Linked DNA regions of Homo sapiens: all the other regions are linked to region 1. The links come from fine-mapping of genetic effects on gene expression. A gene starts in region 1. Each other region holds a variant in brackets. All regions are shown on one strand. Distances are between the middles of the regions.

Region 1 (10,666 bases):
GACAGACTGGAGGCAGAGGTCTTGGTTCATGGCTCAGCTCCACCATTCACGAGGCATAACTTTGGCCAAGGTGCTTAACCTCATTGTGCCTCAGTTTTTCCCATCTATAATCTGGGAATGATAGTAGATCTTCACAGGATTCTTGTGAGGGTAAAAGAATTAATGTAGGTCAAATGTTTACAACAATGTTTGTGAGTCATCGTTGGTCACAGAGCAAGTACTGACACCGTGGAAATTGGCCAGTACTACAAATCAGAACCCCTCCCCTTCGAACTGCTGTTAAACATCTACTAGAGACTATCAGTGTTGTTATTTATAGAATCAGGAAATGCTAGGCTTCTCCTTCTTCTAAGTCCTAGATGCTGAGACTTCAGAAATTCACTGGTTTTGTTGAGGTCAGGAGTCCAAGACCAGCCTGGCCAACATTGTGAAACCCCGACTCTACTAAAAATACACAAAATTAGCTGGGTGTGGTGGTGGGTGCCTGTAGTCCCACATACTCGGGAGGCTGAGGCAGGAGAATCACTTGAACCCGGGAGGTGGAGATTGCAGTGGGCTGAGATCATGCCACTGCACTCCAGCCTGGGCAAGAGTGAGACTCTGTCCCTCCACCAAAAAAAAGAAAAGAAATTAATGGTTTTGTTACTTATGAGTGTGTGTGATCGAGCAGTCTCCAAGTTCATTGCCCAGCCTAGAGATGGGCTTTCCCCCCATGGGCTTTTCCCCTGACAAGTCCAGGGCTTCTAGGAATTCAGCTGCAGTGTAAGCTTCCATTTAATTCCAGTCTGACACACAAAAGCTTGGGGCAGGAAGACTGATGTACTCATCAAGTACAGTGAGTTGCTTAATTTAGAGACACAGGGTTTCATGCCACTCATTATCATGTGATTATTTCCTCCTCATATGATTGTTAACAGAGTTAGATAGATGAGAATTGCGTGTTCGGTCTTTTTTTGAGGGAGGGTTGCTGTAGGAGGAGACCACAATTTCACTAAGATGAGTTGCATCAAAAAGTTAAGAGATGAGGTTAAAAAAAAAAAGAGCCTTAATGCAGGTCCTGAGTCAGTTTTGATTATAGCAAGACGGACAAAAGCAAAGCATTTACTGCTTTAAAGATTCTCATGACCGAGATAGTGAATGCGTCATAAGGAATCCTACAGAGCTGCGCTGTCCCATAAAAACATAACGCGAGCCACATATTTTTTTTTTTGAGACAGGCTCTCGCTCTGTCGCCCAGGCTGAAGTGCAGTGGCACAATCTTGGCTCACTGCAACCTCCGCCTCCCAGGCTACAGCAATCCTCCCACCTCAGCCTCCCAAGTAGCTGGGTCCACAGGTGTGCGCCACTATGCCAAGCTAATTTTTCGTATTTTTGGTAGAGATGGGGTTTCACTACGTTGCCCAGGCTGGTCTCAAAATTCCTAAGCTCAAGGGATCCACTTGCCTCAGCCTCCCAAAGTATTGGGATTACAGGCGTGAGCTACCACAGGGCAAGACCCTGTAATTTAAAAGTTTCTAGTAGCCATGTCAAAAAGTAAAAAGAAATAGAAAGGGCTGGGCACGGTGGCTCATGCCTGTAATCCCAGCACTTTGGGAGGCCGAGGCAGACAGATTGCTAGAGCTCAGGAGTTCGAGACCAGCCTGGGCAACATGGAAACCTCATGATTGTAGAGATGAGATTTCTCATCTGTACAAACAAACAAACAAAAACACAATAATTAGCCAGTCATGGTGGTGTGCACCTGTAGTCCCATAATTCCAGAGGCTGAGATGGTAGAATCACTTGAGCCTGGGAGGCAGAGGTTGCAGTGCATTGCACTCCAGTCTGGGTGACAAAGCAAGGCGCCGTTTAAAAAGAAAAAAAGAAAAAAGAGACAGGAAAAATTAATTGTAATGATATATTCTGTGTAACCCAATATATCCAAAATATTTTAACATGTCATCAATAAAAAATGTTTTCATGTGATAGTGGTACTCTTTGTTTTTTTGAGACAGTGTCTTGCTCTGTTGCCCAGGCTGGAGGGTGGTGTGATCACAGCTCTCTGTGGCCTCAACCTCCCAGGTTCAAGCAGTCCTTCTGCCTCAACCTCCCAAATAGGTAGGCCTATAGGCGTGTGCCACCATGCCAGGCTAATTTTTGTATTTTTTTGTAGAGGCAAGGTCTCGCTATGTTGCCCAGGTTTGTCTCAAACTCTTGAGCTCAAGCGATCTTCCCACCTCAGCCTCCCAAAGTACTGTGATTTCAGGCATGAGCCACTGTGCCCAGCCTCTTTTTCTGTACTATGTCTTTGAAATCCAGTGTGTATTTTAAGGTTATAGCACATCTCAGTGTAGAGTAGGAACGGTTAAGTGTTCAACAGGTGCAAGTTACTAGTGGCTACCATACAGTGCAACACCACTATGGATATTTTCCGCAGTTGTAATTTTACAGGTACCCTAAGGTAGATGTGCACTGATCCTCCCACTAGCAGCAAACGCCAAAAGCAAAAAGCTGCAGGGGAGCTCCTGCCCCCAAATGCTTCAGGTCCAACCAGGGATGTGAGTTCAGTTAACTGGCTAGCAGTGAGTCTCCAAAAAAAAAAAAAAAATATATATATATATATATATATATATATATATATTTGAGATGGAGTTTTGCTCTTGTTGCCCAGGCTGGAGTGCAGTGGCGCAATCTGGGCTCACTGCAACCTCCGCCTCCTGGATTCAAACGATTCTCCTGCCTCAGCCTCCCATGTAGCCGGGATTACAGGCATTAGCCACTAGGCCTGGCTAATTTTTTGTACTTTTAGTAGAGACGGGGTTTTACCATGTTGGCCAGGCTGGTCTCGAACTCCTGACCTCAGGTGATCCACCCGCCTCGGCCTCCCAAAGTGCTGAGATTATAGGCATGAGCCACCGTGTTCAGAAAAAAAAAAAAAAAAAATTCTTTTTTTTGCACTGCTCCATCAGTACAATTTACCATTTTAAACTTTATTTTTCTCTTAGAGATGGGGTCTCGCTATGTTGTCCAGGCTGGTCTTGTGTCCAGGCTGGTCTTGAGCTCCTGGCCTCAAGCAATCCTCCCACCTTGGCTTCCCAAAGCACTGGGACTACAGGTGTGAGCCAATGAGTCCAAATCTGGGTGTGGGCCAGGTGGTTCTGATGTTGAGTCTGCACCTGGAAAGCCATCCTCTTGAATACTGTCTGTATCTACTGCTGCTGCTGACAGATATTGGAAGCCAAACCTGCTTGGGCTTCCCTTGGGCAGTGTTAAGATTCCAAACCTCACCCCAAAGACGGGGGGATCTGTTACTTTTAAACAATTCCTCAGATGAGTCTTCCATGATCAGGTAAACTTGGGAAACACAGTTCATTGGTTCCGAAACGTTGCTGAACATGAGAATCACCTGGGCAGCCGATCATACTCTGCAGCAATTAAATCAGAAGGTCTGGGGATGCGTCTGGGCGCGGTGGCTCACGCCTGTAATCCCAGCACTCTGGGAGGCTGCGGCGGGTGGATCACCTGAGGCCAGGAGTTCGAGACCAGCCTGGCCAACATGGCGAAACCCTGTCCCTACTAAAAATACAAAAATTAGCCGGGCATGGTGGTGGGTGCCTGTAATCCCAGCTACTCAGGAGGCTGAGGCAGGAGAATCGCTTGAACCAGGGAGGTGGAGGTTGCAGCGAGCCAAGATTGCACCACTGCACTCCAGCCTGGGCGACAGAGGGAGACTCCATCAAAAAAATAAAAAAGGGTCTGGGGATGGGAGCCAAAGATTTCCAGATGGTTCCAATGTGCAGTTTGGAGACCACTGCACTAGGCAATACGTGTCAGCCCAGCAGCTGTAGACACCAGAACACCCCAGGTAAGCCTTTAAAGTGGCCCCAGGTGGCAAGGTAATTATCATCTTCTCTCTCGCGTTGTATTCAATTGTAACAGGTGCCAGCCCCGCGTGGGGGCTCACGCCTGTAATCCCAGCATTTTGGGAGGCTGAGGTGGGCGGATCACCTGAGGTCAGTTCAGGACCAGCCTGAAACCCCGTCTCTACTAAAAAATACAAAAATTGGCCGGGCGTGGTGGCGGGCACTTGTAATCCCAGCCACTCAGGAGACTGAGACAGGAGAATTGCTTGAACCCGGGAGGCAGAGGTTGCAGTGAGCCGAGATCGTGCCATTGCACTCCAGCCCGGGCGACAAGAGAGAAATTCCGTCTCAAAAAAATAAAAAAATTAAAAAAGTAACAGGTGCCTTCAAGTACAATGGCACATTCAGCGAGGCCTGAGGGCGGTAGGGCATCTCTAGCCTAAGGGGGCAGCATGGGGAATGACTGACTAGGCTAGGGCAGGTACCACAAAAAGCCCCACAAGCCCAGAAAACAAAGGAAGCAAACTTTAAACACTCGCTACAGTCTGACCTCGCTACTACCACATAGTGACACCGCATAGTGATCAAAAGAAATGACCAAAAGCCACCCACCCAGAAGGAACCAAGCGGAAATTCCAAGCTTTGGTTTTGTCAGCAAATCAGCAGGATGGGAAGTGGAGAGCGAAGATTGAGACGTTCAGGGCGAAGCCCCTACAGCCAAGGGGCACTATGGGGGGTCAGGCAGGAGAGGGTAACAGCCTAGCCAGGCTTTGCCTTTATTTATTTTGTAAACAGACGGGTCTCGGACTGTCTCCCAGGCTCGAGTTAAGTGGTGTGATCATAGCTCACTGCAGCCTCAGCCTCTTGGGCTCAAGCGATCCTCCCACCTCAGCCTCCTGAGTAGCTGGGACCCCAGGCGCGCGCCACCAGGCCCGGATGATTTTTAATTTTTTGCAGAGACGGGGTCCCACGATGTTGCCCAAATTGGTTTCGAACTCCTGGGCTCAGGCGATGGTCCCGCCTCGGGCTCCCAAAGTGCTCGGATTACAGGCTTGCGCCACCGCGCCTGGCCCAGGCTGTGGTTTTAAAACAGCAGCAAGCAGCCTCCCGCCCCCGGGGCCCCGGCGCGGCGGCTGGGGCCCAGGGAAGGTGTCACCGCCTCGGCTCGCCGCTCCCGGACTCGCCCAGGTGACCGAGGCCAGGATGAGCCGCCGCACGGCGCGGACGCGAGGGCAGCACCCGCCGCGCCCCCCGCGCGGCCCCACGCTCACCCGATGACGTAGGCCAGGATGAGCAGTTGCACGGCGCGGTTCATGAGCCCCACTTTGCGGCTGCGGATGAGCACGATGCGCGGCGTGTCGTACTCGAACAGGAAGGCCGCCAGCGCGGCGCAGCAGCCCGCCATGGCCGCGCCGCCCGCTCCCAGTCCCCTAGTCGGTCTGGGTCCCAGTCCCCGCTCGGAGCCCCGCCCAGTCCGCCTGGCCTGCTGGCGGCGCCGTCATCGCGGAGGAGGGCCCGGAAGGAGGCAGCACGGGCGGTCGGGGCCCGGGGCCCGGGGGAGGGCGCCACCTCCCCGTCGGGAACGATGACCCTCTAGGGGGCATGGAACTCGCGGGGGGGGAGTGGCCTCGCCCTTGAGGACGAAAGGCTCCTTCAAAAGGCGGGCGAGGGGCCGGGGGCGGTGGCTCACACCTGTCATCCCAGCACTTGCGGAGGCCGAGGTGAGAGGAATCTTGAGTTAGAGACCAGCCTGGACAACATAGCGAGACCTCGTCTCTATCAAAAATACAAAAAAAAAAAAAAAAAAAAAAAAAAAGCGGGCGTAGTGGCGCTCGCCTGTAGTCCCAGGGAGGCTGAGGTGAGAGGATCGCTTGAGCCCAGGAGGTAGAGGCTGCCGTGTGAGCTGTGATCGCGCCACTGCACTCCAGTCTGGGAGATGAAGCGAGACCCTGCCTCAATAAACCAGAAACCAAAAAACAACAAAAAAGGCGAGTTGGGGAGTAATGACCTTCTCAGGAGGGCCAGAGAGAACAAGAGACCCTTTCGGGGAAGATGGGGTCCGCGAAGAGAGAGTGACCTCCCATTTGGGACAGAGTTCAAGTGAGGGGTAACGAGCGACCTCCCTTAGGGGTACTGATAGGTGCCAGGGATTTCCGTAGAGGACCCCGGGGCTGTGCGGAGTAGCCATCGCTCACGAGTGCGGGCTCCTAAACTTGGGCAGCTGTGGTTGGGGGAGCTGGGGCCGCGCTGTCCTTAGCCTCTTGGGGAACAGCCTAAATATCAGGTGTCCTGTGAGCCCTGGGTGAGAGCCACACGCCCTGTAAAATACCCCTCCTGGATTTGAAGCCTGGTCGCATTCTCACTCCAAATACTTCCTTAGTTGCAGCCCAGGGGAGATAATTCTGTGGTCATCCTTTCCACTGAGAAAATGCTATCACAACTTTAGGAGAGAAAATAGTGAAAGGGGGGGAAACAGCCACCGTTCTACCCCATGAATACAATTTTCCGCATGTGTATTTGTTCATTCCCTTCAGATACGTTTTTTCTTTTTCTTTTTCTTTTTTTTTTTGAGACGGAGTTTCACTCTTGTCCAGTCTGGAGTGCAGTGGCGCGATCTCGGCTCACTGTAACCTCCGCCTCCCAGGTTCAAGCAATTCTCCTGCCTCAGCCTCTTGAGTAGCTGGGATTACAAGTGCCCGCCACCACGCCCAGCTAATTTTTGTATTTTTATTAGAGACAGGTTTTCACCATGTTGGCCAGGCTGATCTCCAGCTCCTGACCTCCCATGATCCACCCGCCTCGGGCTCCCAAAGTGTTGGGATTACAGGCGTGAGCCACTGCGCCTGGCCCAGATGTGTTTTCACAGGTGAATGTTATATTTAGTTTCCCAGAAAATATTCATAAGCACATCCTTTATGCCAAGTACTGTCCAGTGAACAGGACAAGCAAAATATCCTGCCTTCATGCAGCATAAATTCCAACAGGTAATTGGTATAAAGTTTTGGTTTGTAATCATAGTCAATGGCTGTGCTTTTCATTTTCTGATTCGCACTACGTGGTTTCTGTGTTACTGCAGACTCATCATAATGACAATTTTTAATCCATGGACCATTTCTTCCGGAAAATATACCACGATGTCTCTAACCGCTCTCATCTGCTTGCTTCTTAGTTTGTGGATCCTATGCATAATCTTTGATACAACATTTTTAGCTCATTTCCTGGATATGAGATTCCTAAGTAAGCCACACCAACTTGTTTTTCCAAATATAGAAAGGTGAATAATAAAATTTGCAGAAAACAGGCAGCATCTGCCTCTAAGAGATGGAATTCTTAAGTTAGAGGGAGGAACAGAGATGCCCATGCCAGCCTTGGTCCAAAATGGTCTCAGGAAAAGGTGGTGGTATTTTATTCATTCATTTGACAGAAATTTACTGAGTGCCTGTTGTGTGCTTGGCACTTTTCTTGATGCTAGGGCTATGGAGTGGACAGGTGAGGTATCTGCCCAAATGGAGTTTGGTGCAATTGGGAAGCCTCAAATTATCTGTAGAAGAAGAAAACTCCATTGCTAAATCCTCATTGGAAGGGGACTTAAAAATCATTTCCTTAAGAATCAAAACATGGCTGGGCACGGTGGCTCACACCTATAACTGCAGCACTTTGGGAGGCCGAGGCAGGCGGATGATCATGTGAGGTCAGGAGCTGGAGACCAGCCTGGCCAACATGGTGAAACCTCATCTCTACTGAAAATATAAAAAACTTAGCTGGGCCTTATGGCAGGTGCCTGTAATCCCAGCTACTCGGGAGGCTGAGGCAGGAAGAATTGCTTGAACCTGGGAGGCGGAGGTTGCAGTGAGCTGAAATTGTGCCACTGCACTCCAGCCTGGGTGACAGACTCCATCTCAAAACAAACAAACAAACCCCAAAAAACACCAGGCACGTGGCTTACACCTTTAATCCCAGCACTTTGGCAGGCCAAGGTGGGTGGATCACCTGACATTGGGAGTTCGAGACCAGCCTGACCAACAATGGAGAAACCCCGTCTCTACTAAAAATACAAAAATTAGCTGGGCGTGGTGGCGCATGCCTGTAATCTCAGCTACTCAGGAGGCTGAGGCAGGAGAATTGCTTGAACCGGGGAGGTGGAGGTTGCCATGAGCTGATCACGCCATTGCACTCCAGCCTGGGCGACAAGAGTGAAACTCCATCTCAGAAAAAATAAAAATAAAAAATAATGGCAGCAATCAAAACACATTTCCAGCCTTCATTCATACTTACCCTATAGTAATGAGTTAGTCCCAACCTCACAAATCTTGAATTTAGATGGTTTGCTTGTGTTTTGGAATGGGGTCAGTTAAGAAAAATGTAGAAATGCAAGTTTTTATAAATTACTAGTTGGTAACATCATTAGGCCTGACCAAAGAAGCTGATCCTAAAAAATGATTTGGAAAAGTTATTTTGTTTACACTGTTGCTCTTGGATTATCTCTTTTTAAAAAATAACTTTATTGACCAGACATGGTGGCCCATTCCTGTAATCCCAGCACTTTGAGAGACTAAGTTGGGAGGATTGCTAGAGCCCAGGAGTTTGAGACCAGCCTGGACAACATAGGGAGACCCCCATCTCTATAAATACTTTAAAAATTAGCCAGCCATGCTGGTGCATGCCTGTGGTCCCAGCTACTTGGGAGGCTGAGGCAGGAGGATCACTTGAGTTTAGGAGGTCAAGGTTGTAGTGAGCTGCAATTGTGCCACTGCACTCCAGCCTGGGTGACAGAGTGAGACCCTGTCTCAAAAATAAATAAGAAGGCGGGATGCGGTGGCTCACACCTGTAATCCCAGCACTTTGGGGGGCCGAGGTGGGTGGCTCACTTGAGCTCAGGAGTTCCAGACCAGCCTGGGCAACATGGTGAAACCCCATCTCTACAAAAAGTACAAAAATTAGCTGGGCATGGTAGCACGCACCTGTAGTTGTAGTCCCAGCTACATAAAATTTTTAAAAAAATAAATTGGCCAGGTGTGGCTCACACCTGTAATCCCAGCACTTTGAGAGGTTGAGGTAGGTGGATCACTTGAGGTCGGGAGTTTGAGACCAGCCTGACCAACATGGTGAAGCCCCATCTCTACTAAAAATACAAAAGTTAGCCGGGTGTGGTAGTGCATGCCTGTAATCCCAGCTACTTGGGAGGTTGAGGTAGGAGAATTGCTTGAGCCCAGCAGGCGGAGGCTGCAGTGAGCTGATATTGTGCCACTGCCCTCCAGCCTGGGTGACACAGTGAGACTCTGTCTTAAAAAAAATAATATAATAAAAATAATAAGGAAAGAGAGAAAATTAAAAATGGATCAAAGACATACATATAAGAGCTAAAATTATAAATCTCTCTGATGAAAACATAGGGGCAAATCTTTGTGACCTCGGATTAGACAGTGGTTTTTTAGATTTAGATTTTGTTGCCTAAAGCAAGGCAACAAAAGAAAAAAATAGATAAATTGGACTACTTTGTCAAAACTGAAAAGTTCGTGCTTCAAAGTTACCATCAAGAAAGGGAAAAACCCACAGAATGATAAAATATTCACATATCCTATATCTGTTAAGGATCTAGTATTTCAGATATCGTAAGAACTCTTAAAACTCACCAATAACATGACAACCCTATTTAAAAATGGGCAAACATATCTGAATAGACATTTCTCCAAAGAAGATATACACATGAGATCAATAAACACAAGAAGATGCTCGATATCATTATCGTTAGGGAAATACAAATCAAAGCCACAGTGAGATACCATTTCCTCCCCACTAGCATGGTTATAATTAAAAAGATGGACAATCAAAAAGCTGGCAAGGATGTGGAGAAACTGGAACCCTCACACATTACTCATGGGAATGTAAAATGGTCCAGCTGCTTTTTACTCGTGGGAATGTAAAATGGGCCAGCTGCTTTGGAAAACAGCAGTTCCTCAAAATGTTAAACATAGAAATTACCGTAGGACCAAGATATTCCTTTTCTAGGATTTCCCCAGAGAATTAAAAAGATATGTTCTGGGCGGGGCTCCGTGGTTCACGCCTGTCATCCCAGCACTTTGGGAGGCCGAGGCAGGTGGATCACTTGAGGCCAGGAGTTCGAAACCAGGCTGGGCAACATGGAGAAACCCCATCTCTACTCAAAATACAAAAATTAGCCAGGCATGGTGGTGCATGCCTGTAATCCCTGTAATCAGCTACTCAGGAGGCTGAGGCAAGAGAATCACTTGAACCTGGGAGGTTGCAGTGAGCCGAGATCGCACCATTGCACTCCAGCCTGGGTGACAGAGCGAGACTCCGTATCAAGAAAAAAAAAAAAGAAAAGAAAAGCTATGTTTGGCATCTGACCTTGTCTCTTTAACCTTCCCATGCCCACTTGGGCCTCTTCCAAGCACAGCTTCCTTTCCCATCCTAAGGCATTTCAAATAAACTTCCACCCCTCCTCTGAAAAAGAAAAATGTTCATGCAAAAACTTGTACATGAGTATTCATAGCAGCATTCATAATGGCCAAAAAGTGGAAACAATCTAAATGTCCATCAACTAATGAACACATAAACACAATGTGGTCCATCCATACAATGGAACATGATTCAGCCACAGGAAGGAAGCACTGACACGCGCCACACCACGGATGACCCTTGAAAACACCACGCTGAGTGAGAGGAGCCAGATGCCACAGGGCACTTATCGTATGATTCTGTGTATAGGAAATGTCTGGAATAGGCAAATCCATAGAAACTGAAAGTAGAGGCCGGGTGTGGTGGCTCACGCCTGTAATCCCAGCACTTTGGGAGGCTGAGGC
Region 2 (10,666 bases), 64 kb after region 1:
AAGTCAAAGAGACCAGTCACAAAAGGCCACATATTGTATGATTCCATTTATATGAAATATCCAGAATAGGTGAATCCACAGAGACAGAGAGTAGATTGGTCGTTGCAGGGGACAGAGTGGGAAGAAATGGGGAGTGACTCCTGGGGGGCATGGAGTGTCCTTTTGGGGTGATGAAAATGTTCTGGAGCTAGATAGAGGTGGTGGTTGCACAGTACTATGAATGTCCTAAATGCCACTGAATTGTTCATGTTTACAGTGGTTAATTTTACGTTATGTGAATTTCACCCCAATAAAAAATTATATTTTTTATATATGTAGACATATATGTGCTGTAGAAATATTAAAACAAACAAGGGAATTAAAAATGTCAAATTCAGGATTTCTTTTAGGCTGGGCATGGTGGCTCATGCCTGTAATCTTTGGGAGGCCGAGGCAGGTGGATCATCTGAGGTCCTGGGTTCGAAACCAACCTGGCCAAACCCCGTCTCTACTAAAAATACAAAAATTAGCCAGTTGTGGTGGCATGTGCCTGTAGTCCCAGCTACTCCGGAGGCTGAGGCAGGAACCCTGGAGACGGAGGTTGCAGTGAGCCGAGATGGCGCCACTGCACTCCAGCCTGGGTGATAGAGTGAGACTCTGTCTCAAAAAGAAAAAAAAAAAAAAGGATTTCATTTAGAGATGGAGTCTTGCTATGTTGCCCATGCTGGAACACAGTGGCTATTTCACAGGTGCAATCAGCACACGACAGCCACAAACTCCTGGGCTCAAGTGATCCTCCCATCTCAGCCTCCCAAGTAGCTCAGGCTGCAGGTGCAGCCACTGTGCCTGGCTGCAGGATGTTTATAAAGCAAAAGGAAAGAGAATGGGATGAAGGATGAGTTTGCAGGGAGCAAAACTGGATTAGTAATGCTTTATTTCTTAAGTTGGATGGTGGTACGTGGGTGTTATATTATGCACAATACACTTTAGTATTTCTATAACATTTATTTATTACTTATTTGAGACGGAGTCTCACTCTGTTGCCAAGGCTGGAGTGCAATGGCGCGATCTCAGCTTACTGCAACCTCCGCCTCCCAGGTTCAAGTGATTCTCCTGCCTCAGCCTCCCAAGTAGCTGGGATTACAGGCATCCACCATCGTGCCCAGCTAATTTTTGTATTTTTAGTAAAGATGGGGTTTCTCCATGTTGGTCAGGCTGGTCTTGAACTCCTGACCTCAGGTGATCCACCCGCCTTGGCCTCCCAAAGTGTTGGGATTACAGGCATAAGCCAGTGCACACGGCCAACATTTATTTAAAAAGAAGGATTTTCAAGAAAGATGTTGGGGTAAGATACCCAGATTTGAGACCCAATCAGCACATACGAGACATAGCTATTAAATAGAATTCCATAGACAAATATGATAACACTTGCTCATTAATACATTTCAGCCCAGCATCCCAACACATACATGGTGCATGCAGCGCTTTCTCATGCTGGATGTTGCAACGTTCTCCTGGAACAACACTGGGTCATGTGACCCACCATTTGGGAAGCTCAATTCTGATCTCTCATATTTATCCCAGAATGTGCAACATATGATCGATCAGCCTTAATGGAATCAGGCCCTCTCCTAAACAGAAAACCTGTCTCTGTGTCATCATGAACATGTAAATTTTAAGAATTAAAATGCTTCAGAGCTGCGTCAAAGACAAAAAGGGAATGAAAGCGAGTTTGCACACTTTACCTGTCGGGGGGGATACTGTGATCATGAAAGTGAGTTTGTAGTATCCTCCCTTTGGAAAGAAAGTGCTAATGACCATCCCAGAAATACTCTCCCGACCTTGCTTGGTGACTAAGGTGAGCCATGTCACCCCTCCAGGTGGTAGGTTTAATCCCTGAATGAAGAGAGAACTCCCAGCCTTCCCCATCCCCATGACCTTTTTGCTCTAAGAGGCTATAATGTTATGCATTCTGTAGAAGGCAAAGCCGCTGGTACCTGGAGCTAACGGGAGTGTGAAGGACCTAGGGATTTCACTGAGCCGGGGAGGATGGGTAAGTTGTGGGGGTGTGGTGGTGTGCACCTATATTCGCAGCTACTTGTTAGACCGAGGTAGGAGGATCCCTTGAGCCCAGGAGTTCAAGACAAGCCTGGGCAACACAGTGAGACTCCAGTCTCTAAAAAAGAACAAAGCTGGAAAGATTTTGGGAAGTAGAACAGAGCTAATGGGAGAGAAGCCAGGGCCACTGATATGGTTTGGCTGTGTCCCCATCCAAATTTCATCTTGAATTATAGCTCCCATAATTTCCATGTGTTGTGGGAGGGACCTGGTGGGAGATAATTGAATCATGGGGGCAGTTTCCCCCATACTGTTCTCGTGATAGTGAGTAAGTCTCATGGGATCTGATGGTTTTATAAGAGGTTTCTTCTTTTGCTTGGTTGTCATTCACTTTTTGCCTGCCACCATGTAAGACATGCCTTTCGCCCTCTGCCATGATTGTGAGGCCTTCCCAGCCATGTGGAACTGTGGGCCCATTAAACCTCTTTCCTTTATAAATTACCTGGTCTTGGGTATGTCTTTATTAGCAGCGTGAGAACAGACTAATACAGCCATCAAGGGGCACTCACAGGCAAGTCTGGCTGAGGAGGAGCCCTGGAGTGGCAGGGAAATAAGGATGGAGGGTGAGGTTGGGCCCATGGGACCCTGAGGCTGCTTGCTCTGGACCCACCAGATGGAGATGAAGGTGCCCACCATAAAGTCGTTCTTCAGAGTCTCAATCCACATGCTCTGAATATGAGTGACTGTCACAGACTTACACTGGCATCACAGGTGGGATGGGCCCCATGCCAGCATGGTTAGATTGCTCTTCAAGCTCTGCAGGGAGGACCTCCCTTTCAGCAAAGTTCCTCTCCGTCTTACAGCCCCTGGGCTTCCAGCGCAAAGGTAACATCAAAGGGCTGAGCCTCCAAAGTGTATCCCTTGTATCTCTTAGCTCACACCTAAGCCAGGCCAACAAACATCTTCATGGACCCCTAAAGAACAGTAGCGCCAGGACTGTGCCTGCAGTGCGGCACAGAGAAGCTTGGCGTGCAGCCTCTGCATCTCTTATTTAAAATCCCAAGAGGAGAATCCGATCAGGTCCATCGCTGGTCCACCCGGCCATGGTGGGGGCTCAGCAAGGGGCGAGGACCCAAGAGATGCTCTGAGAAGAAAGTGGGGGAGAGCCAGCACCCCCAGGGCAAGTTTAATCCCGATTGTATTAGTTTCTGGTTGTTGCTCTAACAAATTACCACAAACTTAGTGGCTTTCAACAACACTAATTTATTCTTTTGCAGTTTTGGGGGTCAGACTCCTAAAGTCAGTCAAACAGGGTAAAAATCAAGGGTTAAAAAGAAAAAATATAAATTAAGATCACAGCTGGGTGCGGTGACTCACGCCTGTAATTCCAGCACTTTGGGAGGCTGAGGCAGGTGGATAATTTGAGATCAAGAGTTTGAGACCAGCCTGGGCAACATGGCGAAACCCCATTTCTACTAAAAAGGCAAAAATTAGCTAGGTGCGGTGATGGGTGCCTATAATTCCAGCTACTTGGGAGGCTGAGGTGGGAGAATCGTTTGAACCTGGGAGGCGGAGGTTGCAGTGAGCCAAGATCATGCCATTGCACTCCAGCCTGGGTGACAGAGTGAGACTCTGTCTCAAAATAAATAAATAAATAAATAAATAAATAAATAAATAAATAAAAAAGATCCCAGCCCAAGTCATTCCCATAGGCAATGGGAGTGTCTTCTAGATATCTCTTTATGTCCACACCTAGACACACAAATAGATATACTGATGTTACAAACGTGGCTGCAAGCTGTTTTGTAACTTGTTATTTTTGTTCAATAATATGTTATTAGTTCTTTCTATGACAGTAAAGATAGATCTGTGATAAAGATAGATCTATGATACACAGTCATTTTCAGTGGCTAAAGAGTATCTTAGTGTTTAAATTGAACATATGAAACGGCCCATTTTGGCTGGGCTCGGTGGCTCACTCATGTAATCCCAGAACTCTGGGAGGCCGAGGCAGGCAGATTAATTGAGGCCAGGAGTTCAAGACCCGCCTGGCCAACATGGTGGAAACCCCATCTCTACTAAAAATACAAAAATTAGCTGGGCGTGGTGGTGCACACCTGTAATCCCAGCTACTTGGGAGGCTGAGGCAGGAGAATCGCTTGAACCTGGGAGGCAGAGGTTGCAGTGAGCCAAGATCGTGCCACTGCACTTCAGCCTGGTGACAGACTGAGACTGTCTCAAGACAAACAAACAAACAAACAAACAACAACAAAAAAAACTGCCCATTTTGCATTTTGTAGGCCATAGCTATAGAATATAGGCAGTTCCATATGGTTCAAGCTAAAAGGTACATTGTGATAATTTGTCAACCAGCCTCTGGGATGGATATTTACTGGAACCTTTGTTCAATTTTCCCAATTATAAACATTTTTTGGTAACCCTAATATAGTCCTTACCATGTGCCAACCACTCTTCTAAGTCCATTTTGCTAACATATATTAACTCTTGCAATCCTTACTCTCCCCCACCAAAAACAAAAACAAAAACAAAAAACCAACTCTATAAGGAAGGTACTATTATTACCCCCACTTAATAGCTGAATAAACGGTGTCATGAATGAAGTGAGAAGCTTGTCCAAGGTCACATGGTAAATAGCAGCACCAGCTCCAAACACAGCCATGTAGCTTCACAGCCTCAGCTTTCTTAAATGCTACAGTGAATGGAATACTTTTTCGAATTTCCTTTTCAAATGTTCATTGCTGGTGTAAAAAAAACCCACACAATTAATTTTTGTGGTTGATCTTGTTCCTTGCAACTTGACTGAATTAGTTTATTTGCTCTAACAGTTTTCTTGTGAATTCTTTGGGATTCTCCCTATATGGGATTGTGCCACCTGTGACTAAAGATAGTTTTACTTCATCCTTTACAATCTGGATGCCTTTTATTGCTTTTTCTTGCCTAATTGCTCTGGCTAGAACTTCCAGTACAATGTCGAACAGCAGCGGTGAAAGCGGGCATCCTTGTCCTGTTCCTGATCTCAGGGAGATGCACTCAGGCTGTGCTCCTCAACACTGTGCTCACTGTCTGTCCATCCCGCATTCATGTTGCCAGGAATCCCTGCACAAGCTTCTTCTCACCCCTAAGACATTAAGTCCATAGGACAACTTCTGGGTGTGCACATTTTATAGCTGAGTTCATTTTCCCAAATCACAAAAACTTGAACCATTTCATGCTTCTATCAGCAAAGCAAGAGTGTGCACACTGCCTCTTCAGAGGGGCTTGGCCCGGCTCAGTGGCTCACGCTGTAATCCCAGCACTTTGGGAAGCTGAGGCAGGGGGATCACTGGAGGTCAGGAGTTCAAGACCAGCCTGGCCAACATGGTGAAACCCCGTCTCTACTAAAAATACAAAAATTAACCAGGCATGGCGATGTATGCCTGTAATCCCAGCATTCAGGAGGCTGAGGCAGGAGAATCACTTGAAACCAGGAGGCAGAGGTTGCAGTGAGCTGAGA[T/C]TGTGCCATGCCCTCCAGCCTGGGACAGAGTAAGACTCCTCAAAAAAAAAAAAAAAAAAAAAAAAAAAAAGAGAGGCTTGACAAATAAGAGGATGGTCATGTGAACTTGGCTGGGACAGTAGAGGGTCGGGTCACCAGGCTGGGAGCACAGGGCCCGTAGGATGGGGGCTGTGAGTTTGAAGAAGAGGACAGACATAGTAGCAGCGTGCAGCCATTTGAAGAGTAGAAGAGGGACACAAGGCAGAACTCTAACCAAAGGCGAAAGTTACAGGGAGATAGATTGTGGCTCAGTATAAGGAAGAAATGTCTAACAGGGCAGTCCCAGAGCAGAACGAGCTTTCCTTGTGGTTGCTGCTGGTGATGGTGAGGAAGATGATGATGATAATTTTCATTTATCCCATCAACTTCCGTTTCTCTCCTGTCCCATTTCCATCTGCATTTAAACATCATTTCTCATCTTAAAAATGCCTCCCCTCCCCAGCTTAATCCATCCTACCACCACTCCATGCCTCTCTTCTTTATAGCTGAGTCCCTTGAAAGAGTGAGTCACCAGGCCGGGTACGGTGGCTCACGCCTGTAATCCCAGCACTTTGGGAGGCTGAGGCAGGTGGATCAAGAGGTCAGGAGTTTGAGACCAGCCTGGCCAACATGGTGAAACCCCGTCTCTACTAAAAATACAAAAAATTAGGCGGGTGTGGTGGCACATGCCTGTAATCCCAGCTACTTGGAAGGCTGAGGCAGGAGAATCACTTGAACCCAGGAGGCAGAGGTTGTGGTGAGTGGAGATCACACCATCGCACTCCAGCCTGGGCGACAGAGGAAGACTGCATCTCAAAAAAAAAAAAAAGAAAGAAAGAAGAAAGAAAGGGCGAGTCATCACATCCACTTCCGCATCTTGATTCACTCACTCCTCTACCCACTCTAGTCTGGCTCCCACCCCCATCCCTTCTCTAAAGCCTCTCTTGCCAAGTAAACAACAATGTCGTTGTCACTAAATCCAATAGATACACCATGGACCTGACCTTCCTGGAACTCTCAGCAGCAGTTGACACTGACTGTGACCATGCCCCACTTCCCTCGCCTCCTTCCCTTAGCTTGCAGGAGTCCACTTGTGCCTGACTTTCACTGGATCGCCGTGGCTACTCCTCAGAATCTTTTGGGGACTTCTGCGCTCCCACGCCTTAAAGGTTAGCACTCCTTTGGGGCGTGTTCTAGGCCCTTTTGCTTTCTCATCTACATCTTCTCTTGCTGGTCGGTTGCACCTTCTTCCAGGGTTCTGGTTGCCGTCTATATGCTGGTGATATAGAAACCTACATCTCAGCTGCAGATTCGTATATCCAACCATCCATTCAACATCTCCATTTGTACATTCCATAGACACCTCAAACTCAATGCCTTTAGTCCTGACCTCATCTTCCACCCCAAATTGGCTGTTTCTCCTGCATTTCCTATCCCAGCAAGTTATTCCAGTACCCATCAGTTGCCCAAGCCAGAAGCATGGTGCACTCTTTGACTCATCCTCTCCTTCTTGTCCACTCACCCGTTCAGTTGCCAAATCCTACTGTTTCACTTCCTAATATGCTCAAATTCATCTACTTCTCTCCTCTGCCTCTATCACCTCCCCAGTCCAGGTCGCCAACAGCTCTCAGATCTGGACATCCCAATAGTCTCCTAAATGCCCTCCCTTCCTCCAGTCTCACCCTGTCCCCTCTACTCTCTACACTGCAATACTTTAGTGAGAGCATAGACTTTGGAGTGAGGTTCAGTCTCAGCTCTATTGCTTACTGACTACATGACCTTGGGTAAGTGACTTAATCTTTCTGAGTCATTGTTTCTTCTTTTGTAATAAGAGGATATTAGGGCTGGGTGCAGTGGCTCATGCCTGTAATCCCAGAACTTTGGGAGGCCAAGGCGGGTGGCCCATTTGAAGTCAGGAGTTCAAGACCAGCTTGGCCAACATGGTGAGACCCCATCTCTACTAAAAGTACAAAAATTAGCCAGGTGTGTTGGTGCACGTCTGTAATCCCAGCTACTCAGGAAGCTGAGGTAGGAGAATCGCTTGAATCCGGAAGGTAGAGGTCGAAGTGAGGCGAGATCATACCACTGCACTCCAGCCTGGGCGACAGAGCGAGACTCTAACTCCCTTGCAAAACAAGAGGATATTAGTATTCTATTGGGCAGGGTTTCTAGTTCTAAACAACAGAACTCACTCTGCTGAGTTTAAGAAGAAAGATTGTCCAGAAAAGACAAATCTCCAGAGGCAGAGAATAGATTCATGGTTACCTGGGTTGAGCAACCACCAGGAGGAAGTGGGAGTGGGGAGTGACTGTTAATGGGTGTGAGGGCTCTTACTGGGCTGATGAAATGTTCTGAAACTGGATTGTGATGATGGTTGCACAACTTGGGAAATTTACTAAAAGTCATTGAAATGTATATTTAAAACCGGTGATTTTCTGATATGTAAGTTATACCTCAAAAAAGTTGTAAAAAGAGACTTTCTTTTTTTTGAGACGGAGTCTCACTCTGCCACCAGGCTGGAGTGCAATGCCATGACCTCGGCTCACTGCAACCTCTGCCTCCTGAGTTCAAGCGATTCTCCTGCCTCAGCCTCCCGAGTAGCTGGGATTATATAGGTGCCTGCCACCATGCCCAGCTAATTTTTGTATTTTTAGTAGAGACGGGGTTTCACCCTGTTGGTCAGGCTGGTCTCGAACTCCTGACCTCAGGTGATCCACCCACCTCAGTCTCCCAGAGTTCTGGGATTACAGACGTGAGCCACCGCGCCTGGCCGATTTTTTTTTTTTCAGATAGGGTCTCACTCTGTCGCCCAGGCTGGAGTGCAGTGGCACAAACACAGCTCACTGCAGCCTCAACCTCCCAGGATCAAGCAATCCTCCCACCTCAGCCTTCCCAGTAGCTGGGACTACAGGCACGCAGCACCATGCCTGGTTAATTTGTTTTTCTGAGATGGAGTTTCGCTCTGTCGTCCAGGCTGGAGTGCAGCAGAGTGATCTCAGCTCACTGCACCCTCTGCCTCCCAGGTTTAAGTGATTCTCCTGCCTCGGCCTGCCAAGTAGCTGGGATTACAGGCACCTGCCACCACATCTGGGTAATTTTTGTATTTTTTTTTTTTTTTAGTAGAGAGAGACTTTCACCATGTTGGCCAGGCTGGTCTCGAATGAACTCCTGAACCCAGGTGATCTGCCCACCTGGGCCTCCCAAATGCTGGGATTACAGATGTGAGCCACCGTGCCCAGTCATCTTTTTTTTTTTTTTGAGATGAAGTCTCACTCTGTCCCCCAGGCTGGAAGTGCAGTGGCATAATCTTGGCTCACTGCAGTCTCTGCCTCCCAGGTTCTAGAGATTCTTTTGCCTCAGTCTCCTGAGTAGCTGGGACTACAGGTGCGCGCCCAGCTAACTTTTGTATTTTTAGTAGAGACAGGGTTTCACCATGCTGGCCAGGCTGGTCTTGAACTCCTGACCTCAAGTGATCCACCTGTCTCAGCCTCCCAAAGTGCTGAGATTACAGGCATGAGCCACTGCACCTGGCCAAAGTTAACGATTTTGAGATGGCGAGATGACCCTGTGTCATCCAGGTGGGCCCTGAGTGCTATTACACGCGTCCTTATAAGAGAGGCAGAAGGAGATTTGACACACACACAAAGAGGAGAAGACCATGTGAAAACAGGGCAGAGAAGTCTGAAGATGCTGGCCTTGGCTGGGCACAGCAGTTCCCGCCTGTAATCCCAGCACTTTGGGAGGCCAACGCAGGAGGATCACTTGAGCCCAGGTGTTCAAGACCCACCTGGGCAAGACGGTGAGACTCCATGATATGATAGAGTTGACCTGACCCAATCACATGAGCCCCTTAAAAGAAGAGAGTATTCTTCTTCTGGTCCCGGGAGAGAAGTCAGAGATTTGAAGCATGAGAACAATGCGTTGTGTCATAGCAGGCTTGGAGATGGAGAGGACCATGTGGCAGGGAATGTGGGAGGACTTCAGAATCTGAGAGTGGCCCCAGGCTGACAGCCAGTGAGGAGCAGAGCCCAGTCCTGCAGCCTCAAGGGATTGAATTTTGCCAACAACAAAAATGAGTTTGGAAGTGAATTTTCCCCAGAGTCTCCAGGCAGGAACTCAGCCTGCTGACGCCTTGATTTAGGCCTGTGGGACTGTATTAGTTTCCACTGCTGTGTAACAAATAGAAACTAATACAGCCTCAGACACCCCTCATTCCATAGGGCAGCTCACAGTCTGCAGAGGGACAGAGTGGGGCCCTCTAAGCCATGGGGTCCAAGGAAGGGGATCCCCTATTGTATGGGTCAAAGGGCAGTACTTCCCTCCATTCCTGAATTTGAATTCTGTGCACACCCAGCATCCAGTGTTATTCCTTGTGTATCAAAGTGTTGCCTGGGGCATATGTTTGGAAAGCTTGGGTCTCCTGTTGTGTCCTAGCTGCAAGGGAAACTGGGACATTCAGCTGTGACATGGATTGTGTGGTGGAACGCATAACACAGAGTGTTCCCTAAACATGGTTAGGCTGTTCAGGTCATGATCACCCACTCCCACAACCAATCTTCCAGGATTATGTAGGAGAATCAAATAGGCCAATACATGTCACATGCTAAGAACAGAACCCGGCACATGCTAAGTCCTCAGCAGTACTCAGTAGGTGTTATATTTCAAGCAGAATGATCTCTCTAAAATGAAAATATGAACATAAAACCCTTCATGTTTTCTGTTATGTTTCAATATTTTCTAATAAGATGCTGGGGGCTGGGGGACAGCTCTCCATGCTTTCTCAGTACCTGTGGGATGCAGCTCAAGGCGCTCCATGATCAGGCCCCTGCTGGCTTCCCCAGCCCCACCTCAGCCTCGCCTTCTCTGCCACTGTACCGGCCAGCTGTGGGCCTGTGAAAAAGCCAGACAAACTGCTCCTTCCTCTTCCCAACACTGTGCTACCCATGCAGCGGGGCTGGGAGGCTCCAGCCCAGGGTGGGAGGCTGCACTGGGGCAGCATCCCCGGAGGCCTGCAGGTGCAGGAGAGAAACCTCCATCATTACCCCTTGAAACAAGAAAATCAGATGCGGAGGCAGCTTTTCATAAGTCCACAGCCAT
Region 3 (10,666 bases), 43 kb before region 1:
TGACAGAGCTAGACTTTGTCTCAAAAAAAAAAAAAAAAAAAAGTAGAAAACTCGATCTCTATTTCTAGAGGTTAAAAAATTCCCACCCACTGCTCAGCCCCAAAAGTGGTTGAACTGTTAGCGACTGAAAATAGACCTGTTTCAACAGGCCACCCTCCCTCATGCCACCTGATTTATGGTGCTTGGGTGGGTGGGAGGATGGTGCAGAAATTCATGAAGCTTGCAAGTGAAGACTTAAATAACCAAGGCAGGAAAGGCCAGAGCTGAGGGGGCCAGCGCTGGGTTGTCTGTAGAAGCTGTACCTTAGCAGCATTGCCTTTGTTTTTAACTACAGCCTGAAGCAATAGCAAATCTGCCCTAACTCACACTGGTTGATGAAACTGAAGATGGGGAAGGCCTGGGAGAGTTCAGTTCTTTTCCTGATCAGAACCTTTAAGCCTTCTTTTTGTCTGAGTAGCTTCCCTGTTCCCCTTGGCCACCTCAGCCCTTGGAGAGCTTTGAAACAACCCTTTGGTTTCATTTTTAAAAAATTTTTTTGCCTGTAACCCCAGCACTTTGGGAGGCCGAGGTGGGTGGATCACCTGATGTCAGAAGTTCGAGACCAGCCTGACCAATACGGTGAAACCCCATCTTTACTAAAAATACAAAAAATTAGCCGGGTGTGGTGGCAGGTGCCTGTAGTCCCAGCTACTCGGGAGGCTGAGGCAGAAGAATCGCTTGAACCCAGGAGGCAGAGGTTGCAGTGAGCCAAGATCGTGCCACTGCACTCCAGCCTGGGCAACAGAGCAAGACTCCATTTCAAAAAAAAAAAAAAAGTTTTTTTAATTTTTGTGGGTACATGGTAGGTGGATATAGTCATAGGTTACATGAGATGTTTTAATACCGGCATGCAGTGCATAATAATCCCATCATGGAAAATGGGGTATCCCCTCTGGTTTCTATTACATGCTCATCTCATTGTGGGTGTATGATTCCAGAACAACAAGCAACCCCAGAGTCATCCTCCACTGGATTTTGAAATCGACTGTGCTCTTTTTTTTTTTAACTTCCTAAAGTACAGCCTTGTATTCCAATTTATGCTTGTCATAGCAGAATCAAATTAAATAACTATACCACGTGACCCAGAAATTCCACTCCTAGGTATATACCCAAAAGAACCAAAAACAGATATCCACACATGAACATATCCATGTACACGAACGTTCATTGCAGCACTTCCCAACAGCCAAAGAGTAGAAACAGTCCATATGCCCCTCAACAGATGAATGGACAAAGAAAATGTGGTCTATCCATACAATGGAATATTATTCAGCCATTAAAGGGAATGAAGCACTGATCCATGCACCAGTGTGGATGAACCTTAAAAACGTGCTAATGATGCTAAGTGAAAGAAGCCAGACACAAAAGGCCACATAGTGTACAATTCCATTTATATGAAATGTCCAGAACAGGCAAATCTATAGAGACAGGAAACAGATTGGTGGTGGCCAGGGGATTGAGGGAGGGAAGAATAGGGAGTGACTGCTAATGGGTATGAGGTTTTCTTTTGAGGTGATGAGAATGTTCTGGAACTAGATAGTTGTGATGATTGCCCAAAATTGTGAATATACTAAATGCCACTCAATTGCACGCTTTAAAATGGGTAATTTTATGTTACGTAAATTTCATCTCAAAGAAATTTTTTTTTTGGGACATTCTTGCTCTGTTGCCCAGGCTAGAGTGCAGGGGTGCAATCTTGGCTCACTGCAACCTCCGCTGTCCAGGTTCAAGTGATTCTTGTGCCTCAGCCTCCCAAGTAGCTGGGATTACAGGCACCTGCCACCACGCCCGGCTGATTTTTGTATTTTTAGTAGAGATAGGGTTTTGCCACGTTGGCCAGGCTGGTCTCGAGCTCTTGACCTCAGGTGATTCGCCCACCTCGGCCTCCCAGAGTGTTGGGATTACACTGGCGTGAGCCACCGTGCCCAGCCCCCTGCCGTGTTTTCTTTGACCAGTGGATCCTGGGCCAATTTGAGCACTAGAAGTCAAGCCAGACTGTGGGCCTGGGGACGTCAGAAATCCCTGGTTCTTTGCCTTCTGATGGAAATTTAGCAAAGCAGGACCTTGGCCAGCTTGGTTCAGTGGACTGTTCCTCTCCCCAGCTCTAATACTAGTTTCTGTCTTTCTTGGTGTTTCTGGAGGTGGTTGGGAGGTGGGGAGGACAGAGAGAGATGGATGTTCAGTTTCCCATGTAACAGTTTCACCCTTTTCTTCCCTACAGTGTTCGAACTGGTCAACCAAGGGTGAGTGTCCCAGCTCCCAGCAGGGGTGATGCAAGAAGCTTCTGTAGCTGCATAGCTGAGTGAGGTGCCACTGGGCTCTGCTCATGAGAGAGGGCAAGGGCTGGCGGGTCTGCTTTGTGTTTCACATGAGTGTCGACCTTTCAGGCCCGTGATGGAAGTGCCCACCCTCAAACCACTCTCTGAAGACCAGGCCCGTTTCTACTTCCAGGATCTGATCAAAGGCATCGAGTACTGTGAGCAGGGCCTGCGGGAGGGCTCTCACCCAGTGGGTAGTTAGCATTCTGAGCGTGGGTGCAAAGTGGAAAGTGTCTTATTTTCTTCCTGGAGCACAGGGAGGTGGGCGGGTGGATTGGGGTCCTCTAGAGGGACAGAACTAATAGGAGATACATATATATATATAAAATTATATATATAAAATTATATATATAATTATATATATAAAATTATATATAATTATATATATATAAAATTATATATAAAATTATATATATAATTATATATATAATTATATATATATAAAATTATATATATAATTATATATATATAAAATTATATATATATAAAATTATATATATAATTATATATATAAAGGGGAGTTTATTAAGTATTAACTTACACGATCACAAGGTCCCACAATATAGTCTGTCTGCAAGCTTGAGGAGCAAGGAGAGCCCATCTAACTCTCAAAACTAAAGAACGTGGAGTCTGACGTTTGAGGGCAGGAAGCATCCAGATAGGAAAAAAACATAGGCTGGGAGGCTAGGCCAGTCTCACCTTTCACGTTTTTCTGCCTGCTTTATATTCGCTGGCAGCTGATTAGATTGTGGGTCTGCCTTCCCCAGCCCACTGACTCAAATGTTAATCTCCTTTGGCAACACCCACACAGACACATCCAGGATTAATACTTTGTATCCTTCAGTCCAATCAAGTTGACACTCAGTATCAACCATCATAGTGGGAAACAGAATTGTGTGAAATGCAGAATCAGGGCCAGCTGCAGAGAGCCACCCTATGGCCATGGTCCAGGCGAGCCAAAACCCTTCTTCCTGCCACTTGGCAAAATGAAGAGCAGTAGCAATAGTGACTATTTAGCACTTTCTATGTGCACCAGGCACTGTTTGGGGCTCTATTTTTTTTGTCTCTTATTCCTCCCAGTGACCCTGGGATCAGGGTCCTGTTCACCTCCTGGAACCTTAGCTTCCTCATCTGTAAAATGGGGATAACATATCTCTCACCAGGGCTGAGATCAGCCAGTACACATCAGTGGTTTGATTGGCAGGTGTCCTTTCTGCTTCTGCTTGTTAAACATCTTAGCTCTTTTTTTCCTTTGAGATTCTTGCCCTGTTGCCTGGGCTGGAGTGCAGTGGCGCGATCTCAGGTCACTGCAACCTCTGCCTCCTGGGTTCAAGCAATTCTCATGCCTCAGCCTCCCAAGTAGCTGGGACTACAGGTGTACGCCACCATGCCCGGCTAATTTTTGTATTTTTTGTAGAGATGGGGTTTCGCTATGTTGGCCAGGCTGGTCTTGAACTCCTGACCTCAGGTGATCCCCCTGCCTTGCCTCCCAAAGTGCTGGGATGACAGGCGTGAGCCACCGTGCCCGGCCACCACGTTATCTCTTATCCCTGCCTGTCACATAGGATGGTTGTGAGGTTTAATTAAATGTAAAATGTGAATGTGAAACACAACGCAGGGCCGGGCCCCTCACTTGGTGCTCTGCTGCTGCTTTCACTGAAATCGTCTTCATCATCATCATCACCCCAGAAATGGCAGTTGGGTCTTCCAGGCCATAGAACTGTCCTGTACCATGGGCTGATATCCAGCCAGGAGGAGTTAGCCAAGCCCCGAGTTCTGTGTGTGGTTCACATTTCAAATCGGCCTGCTCAGGTCATTGTCGGTTTGGTAAATCAGTTGAGTATTGGCTGTTGGTAAATGAAACTATGTTTCACTGTCAGTTTCACAACTAGCTGTGAGCCAAGCCCAGCAAAAACTTTCCATGCACTGTCACTTGTGACTTAATAAATAACAGGCGATTACGAATTGCTATTGGCAGTGTTTTATGTGTCATTGTTGAGAAGGGGTGGGGTGATGGTGGGCTGGGACTTCCTTGAAGACACTTTTCCCCTCATCTTTTAGAGCATGTCAGTGCCCAGCGGGTTTGGGGAGTGGAAGGTTGGAAAAGGCCTGGGGCTGTGGGAGACAAGGCATCAGAGGGGTGCCATGCCTGTGTCTCCAGGCCATGTGGCCGCATAGAGGTGCTCACGAGGTTTTCCTGCCCCTATCTCCCACCTGCTGTCTACGCCTCCCCAGTACACTACCAGAAGATCATCCACCGTGACATCAAACCTTCCAACCTCCTGGTCGGAGAAGATGGGCACATCAAGATCGCTGACTTTGGTGTGAGCAATGAATTCAAGGGCAGTGACGCGCTCCTCTCCAACACCGTGGGCACGCCCGCCTTCATGGCACCCGAGTCGCTCTCTGAGACCCGCAAGATCTTCTCTGGGAAGGTAAGCTTGGGCCTGCCTCAGCCACAGAGTTCTGCCTGTGTTAGTGTCTTCTGGATTGTAAGCAGCAGAAACCCAACGCACACAGGCTTAAACAGTGAATCCCCTGGATCAAGATACTGAGGGGTAGGCTTCAGGCTTGGCTAGATCCAGGGACTCAAACAGAAACCATCTCCCGCCATCTTTCAGTTGTTTTTCTTATTTGGTTTCCTCCACAGGTGGGTCAGGCACCCAGGGACCAGGTTACTTTCTATCATTTGCCAACCTCAGTGGCAAGAGCATTCCTCATTCTGAATAGTGCCTGTGAAAACCCTGGGGTTGGCTCTGATTGGCCCAACATGGGTCATGTGCCCATGCTTGAACCAATCACTGTGGCTGGGGGTAGTGGTGCTCTCATTGGCCTGGCCTGGATCCTGTGCCTGCCCCAGAGCCTAGGAGACAAGATTGGTCCCGCCCCAACTCCAAGGGCTGAAAGTCAAGAGGTGGTTCCCCAAAGGAAAACTGGAGGATTGGAGGCTGGACCACCCCTTATGCCCTCACACTAAGCTCTTTTTCTTGCAGGCCTTGGATGTTTGGGCCATGGGTGTGACACTATACTGCTTTGTCTTTGGCCAGGTAAGAGGGCGGGGTGTCTGTCCCCTCAGTACTGCTGGGTGGCCCCTGGGTTAATAGTCACCCTTGCGGGGAGACAGTACTTACTTATTTAAGAGTTATTTTAGGCTGGGCATGGTGGCTCACGCCTGTAAACCCAGCACTTTGGGAGGCTGAGGCAGAGGTTAGGAGTTGGAGACCAGCTTGGCCAACATGGTGAAACCCCGTCTTTACTAAAAATACAAAAAATTAGCCAGGCGTGATGGCGCATGCCTATAGTCCCAGCTACTCTGGAGGCTGAAGCAGGAGAATCGCCTGAACCCAGGAGGCGGAGCTTGCAGTGAGCTGAGATTGCACCATTGTATTCCAGCCTGGGCAACAAGAGCGAGACTCCGTCTCAAAAAATAAAATAAGAGAAGAGTTATTTTATTTCTACACCTAGATCTCAATGTGAAAAAGGATGCCTTCCTAAATATACATGTGTATGTATGTCATGATCATATCTATGAAAAAATGATCTGTTAAAACAGAAGGATTGGCAGAGGCTCTAGAGTTTATAAATAGTTGATAAATT[TA/A]GGGCAAGGACAGCAGTTCTGCCACCTCTCCCATTTCTGAGCCCAAGGCAGACATCACTAATCAATAACTGTGCTCGTTCCTCCTGAGCCTGATACTGCTCTGATGTTCTTTCCGTCAGGGTATTCCTAGAAGCTTTTGTCAGAGGGGTAGCATTGGAATGGAAGTTAAAAGCTGTTTACCATTATTGATTTAGGGAGTGCTGTTTGGGCTTTTCTGTTGTTGTTATTTTGTTATTATTGATATCTGGGGGCTTCTCTCTCTATTTTTTTTTTTTTTTTTTTTGAGATGGAGTCTTGCTCTGTCACCCAGGCTGGAGTGTAGTGGTGCGATCTCGGCTCACTGCAACCTCCGCCTCCCGGGTTCAAGCCATTCTCCTGCCTCAGCCTCCTGAGTAGCTGGGACTACAGATGCCAGCCACCACACCCGGCTAATTTTTGTATTTTTGTAGAGATAGTGTTTTGCCATGTTGGCCAGACTGGTTTCAAACTCCTGACCTCAAATGATCTGCCAGCCTGGGCCTCCCAGAGTGCTGGGATTTGGGATTACAGGTGTGAGCCACCACGCCTGGCCTTCTCGTTTTAACTCTGAAGTTCAGTTTGATTATGTGAGCAATAAAAACGTAGATTTTTCCCTTTCCTGAGCTTGTGTTCTTATTGAGGAAAGCCTAAGAAACTGGTCCCATGAAGAAGTAAAGGAGTTTATACCGATTGCCTCTCAATATTTGATTAGAAAATTTTTCAATCATGTAGCAAAGCTGGAAGAAGTGTCCAGTGAACACCCACATACCCACCACCTGGATTCTACTATATTAACCTTTTCCTGTGCTTGTCTGTTCATTCCTTACCCATCCCTCAGTCCATCTGGTTTCTTAATGTATTTCAGAGTAAGTTACCACCATCTCCACTCTTCCTTCCAAATGCCTTAGAAGGCAGTGATTAGGTAGAGCTCAAGTCACTGCTCTTAATGAAATCGTTTTCCTTAGACGGGTGGTTCAGGTACCTCTCTGCCACCTTCTCCAACATTTTCAGTGTCCCGTGTAAGGATTCCTTTTCCAGCACACATGACCAAGCTGCTCTTGAGTCAGGCCCTCAGCTGGGTGAAAGCATCGATTTGTCACCCAGAAGGTGGTGCAAAAATAGGCTTCAGAGTCAGCTGAATCTAGGCTTAAATCCCTCTTCGTACTTCCTGGGACACATTATTTCTCTGAACTTCTGTTTTTCTCTTCTGTAAAATGAGAATACTACTTATTATTTCTGATGACTTCTGAGAGGATTGACAGAAATAATTCAAGTATCCATTAATTCAGCAGATATTTATTGAGCCCTTACTTTGTGCAGGAACGCTCCTAGGCACGGAGAGTCCGCAGTGAGCAAGACAGCCAGAAATCCCTGCCTTCTTGGAGCTAACGTTCCCGTGGGAGGGGTTAAACAATAAACAAATCTGTACGATAACGTCAGGGATAAGTGCTACGATGAGGAGTGATGTGGGCGGTGGCGGCATTGGGGGTTGTCTGTTTTAGACAGGGCTTCAGGAAGTCCTCCCTGAGAAGGTGAGCTTTAGTCAGACACCTGCATGGTGGGAGAGACCAAGCCACGTAGATGTTGGTGAGAAGAACATTCCAGGGACGGGGAACAGTGAATGAAAACCTCAGGGCAGGGCGTGGCGCGATCCAGGCTAAGCCCTTGAAAATCACTGCTGCTGCCACAAATAACACAAAGTCTTTTGTGTTATTCTTGTTGTTCCTGTTGTTCACCTGGCAAGTAGGTGACGAGCAGTGTTTGCTTTGGTGTAAGTAGGTAAACTGAGGCCCAGCTACAGAGGGAGCCTGCAGTGTGCTTGGGAAAGGCTCTAGCCCTTCGAGAGGGCCATTCCTGGCTCTGCCCTGCGTCGGCCAGGCCCCACACCCCTGTGTCTTGGCCATTCTCGGGGAGAATGGGAACTGCTTGCCCCCTAGCCTGGGCCGCAATTGTTGATTTCTCTGCTGTATCCTATGTGGAGTGGCACAGCACAGGTGGCCCTCGAAGGGCAGATGTGGCCGCCATTGACTGCCACTCTGTCCCTGGCCTCTTTGCAGTGCCCATTCATGGACGAGCGGATCATGTGTTTACACAGTAAGATCAAGAGTCAGGCCCTGGAATTTCCAGACCAGTGAGTATCTCCCGCCGTCCCGCATCTCTCCTGTCCGAGTTCTTGGCGGTCCCGTGTCTGCCACCCTGACGCCTCTCCATCCCCAGGCCCGACATAGCTGAGGACTTGAAGGACCTGATCACCCGTATGCTGGACAAGAACCCCGAGTCGAGGATCGTGGTGCCGGAAATCAAGGTACCCTTGGCTCAGCCTGTGCCCCGTGCTCGGAATTGTTTGGCTCAGCCATGCCTCAGCCAGACCCCACACCCTTGTGTCCACAGCACCACACCCTCCTTGGCACCGCTGTTCTCCTATGCCCCAGGGCCTCTGAGCTGCTGGGGGCTGTTGAGGGCTGGGTAGGAAGATTTGGGCATTGTGTGCACTGTGACTGTGGGAGTGGGATCTATGACCCGCCAGCCTGCACTTGCTCTGATTGGCGTGGGCTGATGGGATCCACCCTCTGCAGACCGGCATGGGGCCTCCGTGCTCCACACCCTATTCCCAGAGCTCAGGTCCTTTCCAAAGGCCCGTCCCTTTGAGAAACTGCAGTGAGGATGGGAGGAAATTAATGAGCAATTCGACCTCCCCAGCCTGCTGAATCCCACCCTCTTGCAGAAAGCACTTTTAGGAAAGTGTATTCCCCTACACATCTCCACTAATGCCACACACATATATCTGGCCCTCTAGGAAATCTAGAGATTTGCCCTGGGACTTCCTAGGCAGCTAGCTAACTGGCATTTGAAGGTCTTAACAGAAGGCAGCCCAAAAAATCATGGATTGGGGCTTGGACCCAAGGGGGCAGACCCCTGCCTGGGTCCTCTCCTGATCCTGTCCTGCCAGCTGGTCCCACCATGCCTCCAAGCCTCTCCTGCTGTGAGATGGGGAGAATGCTGCCTGCTGTGCACTGAGCCTCCCAGGTGTCAGGGATTGTGGCTGAGGAGTGATGGATGCTCCTTGGGCAGCCAGGCAAGGCAGATGCCAAATTCCCATCACTTCGGCCAAGACCCGGGGCCGGATGGAGAATCGCCCCACTTCCATTTCAGCCTTGTAGCTCCTCCCGTCCTGTCTCTCCGTCTTCATGTTTCCGCCCCTTTGCTCACCCCTGCCCTCTGCTCGCCAGCTGTTTTGCATGCCTGACCACAGGCCCTTGCCTCTCCGTCCTGCATGCCCTTGTGGCTCCGCTCGCTGGCAGGGCCCCCCGGTAGCCAGCCACACCTGCCCCTCACCCCTCCTGTCGTTCGTTGAAGCTGCACCCCTGGGTCACGAGGCATGGGGCGGAGCCGTTGCCGTCGGAGGATGAGAACTGCACGCTGGTCGAAGTGACTGAAGAGGAGGTCGAGAACTCAGTCAAACACATTCCCAGCTTGGCAACCGTGGTAAGGTGGATGGACCCCTGACCCAGAGCAGGGACCCAGGAGCCTGAGGTGGGGCCTGGCCAGGACAGGCCGGACACAGGCGGGTGCCCGGGAGTCAGATGTCCGGGGGCCACCCCTAATCCACAGCTGCTGGCCTCTGGGCCTTGGTCATGTATCAGGCCAGGTGACCCCTGCATCTTCTGAGCCAGGTTCCATGTTACCATAGGAAGGGGAAGATTATCCTTCTGGAATTCCTGCTTTCAGAGCTCATCAGGGGAGAGGAACTAGGAGAAGTTCCAGGCAGGGGCAAGGGTTGGGAGCCGGAGCCCAGGTCTCTAAGCCAGGATTCCCGCCTAGCTGGAATTTTAGGCTCCAGGGTGGATGGCGTAGCATATCTCACGTCTGCTGTGTGGGCAGCCACCAGGGGTAGGGGCAGGGACTTCCACGCACACACTCAGAAAGTTCTGCCCATCTCCTGAGAGTGAGAATTGCTTAGGAGCAAGTAGGTCCCCTTTTATGGCCTTGAATTTGGATCCTGACCCAGGAAGAAGGAGCCAGAATGTAGAGTCCTCAGGCCTAACCTTGGAGGCTCTGGGAATCGCCACTGACCAAGTCCCTGTCCAGGAGGGCAGTTAGCTCCAAGAGAGAGACCAAGAGTCCCAGGGATCCAGGTTCCAGGCAGCAGGCTTGGGGACAGAGACCAGCAGGTTGTCCCACCACAGCCACCTCGAAAGGCCTGGTTGCAGTTGGCCAGCACTAGTCCCAGTGGGCCGGCGGGCCCCTGGGCTCTGGGAGGGACCCTTGAGACTGGCTGGAAAGGCACAGAAGGTCCAGCTGTGAAGGATTGCCCCTGTAGGAGCCCAGATGCTGCTCCTGCTCCTCCAGCTTTGCACCTCTCTTCTCTGCTTCCCCACACACTTCCTCTCTCCTCCTCCCAAAGCTGAGCCCTGGCTGGGGCATCCATCCACATCTTCCTCCACTCTTTCCCCACCTGGGGCTGTGCAGGACCTTCACTGTTGAAGACCCACCCACACCCACTCACCCTTCCTCAACCACCCCTTGTGCCTGTAGACGAGGAGACAGCTGGCGTCGGACTCTGCACCCACCGTGGGTTACTGTGTTCCAGGCTCAGGAGGTTCTCAGTCCTGAATCAGTTGCCCTCCCTTTCCTTCCTGGGTCTCTGGGACGGGTTCTTGGGAGAAAGCGTCTGGCCCTGGAGGTCTGGAGT

Evidence for each region. PIP is the estimated chance that this variant, and not a neighbour inherited with it, causes the effect. A credible set is the group of variants that fine-mapping cannot tell apart.
Region 2: its variant is the best candidate, but not a certain one, in a credible set for the expression of P2RX4 in whole blood (INTERVAL, PIP 0.76).
Region 3: its variant is the best candidate, but not a certain one, in a credible set for the expression of P2RX4 in fibroblasts (GTEx, PIP 0.63).

The regions. Positions count from the first base shown.
Region 1 is chr12:121,204,746-121,215,411 of GRCh38, reverse strand. It overlaps P2RX4 (purinergic receptor P2X 4), which reads right to left and starts at 5,283. Exons shown (of 12, transcript NM_002560.3): 1 at 5,114-5,283. The coding sequence starts at 5,247. It overlaps LOC105370032 (a long non-coding RNA gene), which reads left to right and starts at 5,340. Exons shown (of 4, transcript XR_001749352.3): 1 at 5,340-5,563. RefSeq lists an enhancer at 4,458-4,507 and a silencer at 4,838-5,577.
Region 2 is chr12:121,141,243-121,151,908 of GRCh38, reverse strand. The region is part of intron 1 of P2RX7 (purinergic receptor P2X 7); the gene reads right to left. All of the region lies in intron 2 of LOC105370032 (a long non-coding RNA gene), which reads left to right. Among named protein-coding and RNA genes, the nearest start is that of P2RX7, 14 kb to the right of the region's middle. RefSeq lists an enhancer at 7,913-8,062. The variant T/C (reference allele first, on the strand shown) is at 5,552.
Region 3 is chr12:121,247,399-121,258,064 of GRCh38, reverse strand. CAMKK2 (calcium/calmodulin dependent protein kinase kinase 2) reads left to right here. Exons shown (of 17, transcript NM_001270485.2): 8 at 2,261-2,282; 9 at 2,427-2,515; 10 at 4,593-4,792; 11 at 5,351-5,404; 12 at 8,031-8,104; 13 at 8,191-8,278; 14 at 9,331-9,459. Among named protein-coding and RNA genes, the nearest start is that of P2RX4, 43 kb to the right of the region's middle. RefSeq lists enhancers at 1,972-2,472, 9,045-9,124. The variant TA/A (reference allele first, on the strand shown) is at 5,955.